Homo sapiens: one gene and its partner. Changing the gene in region 1 together with any one later gene gives a genetic interaction. Each region holds a gene or a part of one and is shown in the gene's direction. Other genes may lie near its edges. The genes, in order: ATAD3A and SREBF2.

Region 1 (3,323 bases):
AGACGCTTTTGCTAGAAGTCGGGGCTCCGCCACTGCCAGCATAAAGGCCACCTGCCCTGCGGGTGCTGAGTGAGCAGCTGTGGGCAGGGCTGGTGTGAGGAGTGGTTGGGGCCATCTCCAGGCCCTGCAGCCACTCCCTGCTCAGTCCGGGCCTGGCCTGCAGCAGGGAGGATGTGGAGCTGGGCTGTCAGAAGTAGAGAGCCCCTCCAAAGAGGATGTTTGGCGTGGGTGTCGGCCTCGCTGCCTGTCTTCCGGCCTCCACCTCGTGTTGTGGGAGCTGCTGCCTTGGCCGGCCCACTTGGGAACTCCTTCCCCAGGCGCCTGAAGCTGGCCCAGTTTGACTACGGGAGGAAGTGCTCGGAGGTCGCTCGGCTGACGGAGGGCATGTCGGGCCGGGAGATCGCTCAGCTGGCCGTGTCCTGGCAGGTGAGTCAGGCTCCGGCACGTCCACCCAGACGGGACCCCAGCTGCTGTGGAGATGCTCAGTTGCGCCAGGCCTGTCCCAGCACCGGTGTCACGCGGGAGCTTCTGTTGAGGGGTTTTCAGTGCACAGAGGTGACACAGGGCCCCCTGCCCCAGTCAGGCCACTCCACGAGGCATCGCGCACCTGCTCGTGCCCTCAGGAGGGTGGAGCCATGTCGGTGGCTGACAGTCACCCGGGGCTCTCTGGAGGCCAGTCTGGCATCGCCGTAGCCCGAGCTTTGCCAGGTGGGGCTGGAGGCTTCTGACTCTCACCTTGGCCAATAGGCACCTCCCTGTGTAAATGGTCGTTAGGACAGGCCCCATGTGAGTTGGGGGTTCGGGGTGGAGGGACATTGTGTTTTCTGGACCAAGTCTGTGGGCTTGGTCCTGCTTGACACATGGGTGGGAGTGGCCTCTGGTTGTCCCACAGCCAGTTGTTCTTCGGGGACACCCCTCCTGCAGCTCCGTGGCTGCTCCAGGGCTGAGGAGCCAGGACTCACAGGAGTGTGGGCGTGGCCATCCAGAAAGCTTTGGTCTTTGGGGGTTGCTGGAAAAGCAAAACCAGGTTGGTGGGGCAGAAGGCACCCTGGCCACGCACAGGCATCACCACCTCTGGGGTCCGCAGAGTCTGTGTAACAACCTGGTTCCTCAATCTAGCAGTGCTTTTGAATGAACGTGTGACAGCTTAATGAAGCAGCCGAGTACCTTGATTTGAATGTTGGAGCCGGGGTTCACAGGGGGCTGTATTAGTCAGTACAGGCTGGGTTATGCCACTGTGACAAAGAGCCCCAGATCTCAAACCCCGTCCTTGTGGGTCAGCTGAGGTCTCTGTTCCAGGCCATCCCCACTTGGAACCAGGTCTGTTTCCACAACTAAGAAAGCAGAGGCCGGGTATGGTGGTGGCTGACGCTTGTATTCCCAGCATTTGGGGAGGCCAAGTTAGATTATTTGAAGCCAGGGGTTTAGGACCAGCCTGGAAAGCAAGGCAAGACCCCATCTCTACAAAAAATGAAAAAATTAGCTGGACCTGGTGGCACATGCCTGTAATGCCAGCTGCTTGGGAGGCTGAGGTGGGAGGATCACTTGAGTCCAGGAGGTGGAGGCTGCAGTGAGCTGTGATTGCCACTGCACTCCAGCCTGGATTACAGAGCAAGACCCTGTCTTAAAAACTAAGAATAATGGCCGGGCGCGGTGGCTCACGCCTGTAATCCCAGCACTTTGGGAGGCCGAGGCGGGCGGATCACGAGGTCAGGAGATCGAGACCATCCCGGCTAAAACGGTGAAACCCCGTCTCTACTAAAAATACAAAAAATTAGCCGGGCGTAGTGGCGGGCGCCTGTAGTCCCAGCTACTTGGGAGGCTGAGGCAGGAGAATGGCATGAACCCGGGAGGCGGAGCTTGCAGTGAGCCGAGATCCCGCCACTGCACTCCAGCCTGGGCGACAGAGCGAGACTCCGTCTCAAAAAAAAAAAAAAAAAAAAAAAAAAACTAAGAATAATTTGGAACGAGTGCGGTGGCTCACTCCTGTAATCCCAGCACGTTGGGAGGCTGAAGTGAGAATATCATACACCTGAGGTCAGGAGTTTGAGAGCAGCCTGGCCAACAAGGCCAATCTCACCTCCACTAAAAATACAAAAATTACCCCGGCACATTTGTGGTGTATGCCTGTAGTCCCAGCTACTCAGGAGGCTGAGCCAGGAGAATCTCTTGAATCCAGGAGGCGGAGGATGCGGTGAGCTGAGATGGTGCCACTGCCCTCCAGCCTGAGCAATAGCGTGAGACTCCATCTTAAAAAAATAGTAATAGGCCAGGTGCAGTGGCTCACACCTGTAATCCTAGCACTTTGGGAGGCCAAGGCGGGCAGATCACGAGGTCAAGAGATGGAGACCATCTGGCCAAATGGTGAAACCCCATCTCTACTAAAAATACAAAAATTAGCTGGGTGTGGTGGCGCATGCCTGTAATCCCAGCTACTTGGGAGAATGAGGCAGGAGAATCACTTGAACCCGGGAGGCGGAGGTTGCAAAGAGCCGAGATTGCACCACTGCACTCCAGCCTGGCAACACAGTGAGACTCCATCCCAAAAAACGAAAACGAAAACTAAAAATAATAATAACTGGGGCTGGACGGGCGCGGTGGCTCATGCCTGTAATCCCAGCACTTTGGGAGGCCGAGATGGGCGGATCATGAAGTCAGGAAATCAAGACCATCCTGGCTAACACGGTGGAACCCCATCTCTAATAAAAAATACAAAAAAAAAATTAGCCAGATGTGGTGGCGGGTGCCTGTAGTCCCAGCTACTTGGGAGGCTGAGGCAGGAGAATGGCATGAACCCGGGAGGCAGAGCTTGCAGTGAGCCGAGATCGCACCACTGCACTCCAGCCTGGGCGACAGAGCAAGACTCTGTCTCAAAAATAAAAAAATAAAAAATAAAATAATAATTTGGGCTGGGCACGGTGGCTCACACCTGTAACCACAGCACTTTGGGAGGCTGAGGCAGTGGATCTCCTTGAGTTCAGGTGATCTGCCCCCTTTGTCCTCCCAAAGTGCTGGGATTACAGGTGTGAGCCACCATGCACGGCATCTTGAATTCTTTTCTCATAAAAGGGTTTTGAATTTGGTCGAATGCTTTTCCTGCATCAGATGAGAGGGTCATGTAGTTTCCTTCCTCCACTCGGCTAATATTGATTGATTTTTGTATGTTGAACATTTTTTATGTGGAACATTGATTGATTTTTGTACGTTGAACTATCCTTGCATTCCAGGAATAAATCCTGCTTGGTCAGGGTGTATAATTTTTTTATTATACTCCTGAATTGGTTTTGCTGGCATTTTGTTGAGGACTTTTCCAACGATGCTTA
Region 2 (3,811 bases), on another chromosome or scaffold:
TTACATTTTTTTGAATGAAGAAACTGAGGCTCAGAGAGACTAAGTCCTATGCCAGGGTCATGTAGCTAGTAAGTGGCAAAGCCGGGTCAGTAGGCCTAGTCCCCAAGCACTAAGGCACTCTGTGGTTCTGTCTTCTGAGACACCTGTCTCCCTCTCCCACTCCTCCTCCTCCTTCCCCCAGCCCCATCGACAGGCTCTGCTGCCACTTCAGGCTTTTCCTTGGTACCTTGTGGGTATCTCAGCCTCCTAGCCAGCCATGGTGGGACTCCCATGGGGTGGAAGAACCTGCGCCTTCAACCCACAAGGGTTTTATTTCTGCCCCTGCCACCTGCCTGTGCTGTATTCCCTATACAAGCTGCTGTCCCTGTCAGAGCCTTGCTTTCTCACCTGCAGAATGGGGAGGGCTTGTCTCCCACCTCCTGGGGCCATGGAAGGAACTGGTTCTCCCCTGAGCTGTTCCCTCACGTCCTGCGGAGTTCACCAGACTCTGGGGCTCTCCACTTCCTCCCAGAGCTGCTGAGTGTTGGTCTGGGGAGAGGCCTGGTAGGTGCTAGGATCCTTGCCTCAGGGATGGGCCAGTCACCTGTCTCCCCTCTCTCGTGGCTGACCCCACAGGTGGTCCAGCTGCTCACCTGTGACCTGCTACTGTCGCTACGGACAGCGCTCTGGCAAAAACAGGCCAGTGCCAGCCAGGCTGTGGGGGAGACCTACCACGCGTCAGGCGCTGAACTGGCGGGCTTCCAACGGGACCTGGGCAGCCTGCGCAGGCTGGCACACAGCTTCCGCCCAGCATACCGCAAGGTGAGGCCCAGCTGGCTGGTGGGGCAGGGCAGATTGGAGCCTGTGGGGCCTGAGCCCAGAACCCAGCATGGGCACCAGCATGTGGTTGTGGAGTTGGCCCTCTGAGGTCAGCCTGGTGACCTGTCGAGCACCTGCTTGGCTCGTGCCCAACACTGGGCTAGGCGCCATGTGTCCCTGTGTTCAGCACACATTGGTTGAGTGCCTGCTGTATGCCTGGCCCTGGAGCTCAGCAGGGAGCAGGCCACACTTTGCTGCCACAGACAGGGGCCAGCAGGGAGCTGTGCCTCCCCAGGCACATGCTGGGTGGGAGGGCTCTGAGGGCAATGGTGGCAAGTCAGGGCTCCTGGCCTGGTCCCGAGCTCCACGTTGACTTTCATTCTTTTTCACAGTAGCTAGAGGCTTCGGTTCTGCTGCTGGGTAACATCCCCTTGGCAGTGGCCACGTGATCTGAACTAAGTCACGGAGGAAAGTTCTATGACTGGGCTTGCCAGGCTCCAGCTATTTCCTTTTTTGTTTATTTGTATTGCTATATAATGTATTCAACATATTTGTACCTGTATTTTTTTCTAAAAATTTGAGTGAGATGACTCAAGTGTCATTGAGGGGGCACGGGCTGGGCTGGAAGAAGGCCTCAGAGCGAGGCTGCTGCCGTGGAGCTTGGGATTCAGCCCCCACACCCATCACCCTGAGGTGCTGCGGGGCCCACCCAGGGTTGCACTGTGGCCACTGTGTGCAGCAAGCCAAGACAGACACAACAGACAGTATCATCGGAGAGCCATTCCTTACTGTGGAGAAGAGGGCATGTACCCCAGGCCTGGAGCGGCACCCCTGCCTCCTGGAGCCCACTCTGGTCAGCTCTCTGGTCTGCTCACAGCATGGCTGGCATCAGTGGCCTTTTTTTCATAATAGATGGGGTCTTGCTATGTGGCCCAGGCTGGTCTCAAACCCCTAGCCTCAAGCTGTCCTCCTGCCTCGGCCTCCCAAAGTGCTGGGATTACAGGTGTGAGCCACCTCGCCTGGTCCAAAGGCCTCCTCTTAAATACCATTTCCATTCTGCTGCTCCCTGCTGAGAGCCCATCAGCGGCTCCCCATTGCCTACCAGGACCAGAATCCACTTGGCAGCACTGAAGACCCTCCCTGAAGACTGAGATATAAAGGCATCAAAAAGAGCTTGAGATTTTAAGAAATGACAGACCTCAGCCTTGCCCTTCACCCACCAGTGGCTCATACCTAAGCGCTGCAGACTTTACCCGCACACCTCTAGACTCTCTTCCTTTCTAAAGATACGGAAAGAGGATACCAAACCTCTCTGGTACCAGCCCAACTGTCCCTCCTCACCCCTCTGTCCCTGTCACACCTGTCCTTTTGTCAAACTGCAGGCAGCCTCCAGGGCCTTGGGGCTTCACCCAGGGCACTTGTCTACCAGCCCCACGAGGTGCGTCCAGGGCTTTCTTGTCACCAGTTGGGAAAAGCAGGCCTTTTGCCTCTCTCTCCTCTCATCCTGCTCCTGCTGTTCAGCCAGGTTTCCTGCCTGGCTCAGGGTCAGAGTACGGGACAACAGAGGTTGCTTTTCAGGGGTGAGCAAGGCAGGGTGGTGTGGGAAGGGATGTCATGAGGTGGCAGGCGAGATGGCTCAGGGAGAGCTACCCTGGGCATAGATGGGTGGGGACCAGGGGTGTGATGGATGTCACCCCGGCACCTCCCCAGGTGTTCCTGCATGAAGCCACCGTGCGCCTGATGGCAGGAGCCAGCCCCACCCGCACCCACCAGCTGCTGGAACACAGCCTGCGGCGGCGCACCACGCAGAGCACCAAGCACGGTGAGTCCACCCCTCCCCAGCTCACAGGCTGGGCCAGGCCCTGCGCCCTAGGAAGAGAGGAGAAGAGGGGCCAGCCCAGCTCCCACATCTGGCATTGGTGCCCAGCACACCTCTCGCCTCTCTGAGAATGAAAGAAGCCCGAGGCCGCCCTTGGTGGGTTGCAGGGGTTGGGGTGGTCATGGGTCATGCTGTGATCAGGGAAGGAGGGTTGGGGTGGCGTCCCAGCACAGGTGCAGGCATAGAAGCAGAAGCTCGAGCCAGGTCATGTGGGCCCATCTCAGCCCCACCACGGGCTGGCCGTGAGAGGCTGGACAAGTTCACTTCTTTTCCGTGGATTGGGTGGGGCAGCAGACCCCACCTCCCAGGATGGATGTGAGCGTTCAGTGAATGAGTCCAGGTAACGCCAAGGAACTGCACCAACTTCATGGTAGATTCTCGGTTGTGACACACATCTCCTTCCCACAGGAGAGGTGGATGCCTGGCCCGGCCAGCGAGAGCGGGCCACCGCCATCCTGCTGGCCTGCCGCCACCTGCCCCTCTCCTTCCTCTCCTCCCCGGGCCAGCGGGCAGTGCTGCTGGCCGAAGCTGCCCGCACCCTGGAGAAGGTGGGCGACCGGCGCTCCTGCAACGACTGCCAGCAGATGATTGTTAAGCTGGGTGGTGGCACTGCCATTGCCGCCTCCTGACCACCAGGCTCAGCCCACCCCTCCACCTCTCTCTCGATTTCTCTCTCTCCCCCTCAGCATCTTCCCGCTGAGAGTGGTGGGGAAGAGCCTTGTCTTCTTAGCTGTCACCTGCCGAGGCTTCTGGGCCACTCAGGCCAGTGCACCCCTGGGCAGAGCCCCTTAAAGCTGCTGTCACTAGATGCCCATGGTCCAGGGCCTGGTGGGCGTGAGAGGATAGGTGGCAGGGCAGAAACTGGGCAGCCCTGACTTGATAGCAGCAGGGGGAGCTCCCAAGCTGCCAAGCCCCTGCCTCCAGCCTTCCTGAGTTTCTCTCTCCTGAACCCTACTCTCTCCTTTTTGCTTCCTCAGTTTTTATCAGGCTTTCTCTGGGGGACAGCAGTCTCTGAGCACCAGGGAGCAGTTGCCCTCAGGCCTGTGCCCAGCATGCCCTCCCCTTTTTATACGAATGTTTTCTACCAGTGTGCTTGGGTTTGCCATGATGCGAGGCTGAGTTGCTGTAGCGTCT

The links.
Region 2: changes in ATAD3A (region 1) and SREBF2 together harm fitness more than expected from each alone (negative genetic interaction), as found in Homo sapiens cells (one large-scale study listed by BioGRID).

The regions. Positions count from the first base shown.
Region 1 is NC_000001.11:1,528,906-1,532,228, forward strand, and holds part of ATAD3A (ATPase family AAA domain-containing protein 3A), read left to right. Parts: intron 1-317; coding exon 318-426; intron 427-3,323. UniProt on the Homo sapiens protein: Essential for mitochondrial network organization, mitochondrial metabolism and cell growth at organism and cellular level. May play an important role in mitochondrial protein synthesis. May also participate in mitochondrial DNA replication.
Region 2 is NC_000022.11:41,902,355-41,906,165, forward strand, and holds part of SREBF2 (sterol regulatory element-binding protein 2), read left to right. Parts: intron 1-615; coding exon 616-801; intron 802-2,508; coding exon 2,509-2,620; intron 2,621-3,085; coding exon 3,086-3,306; 3' UTR 3,307-3,811.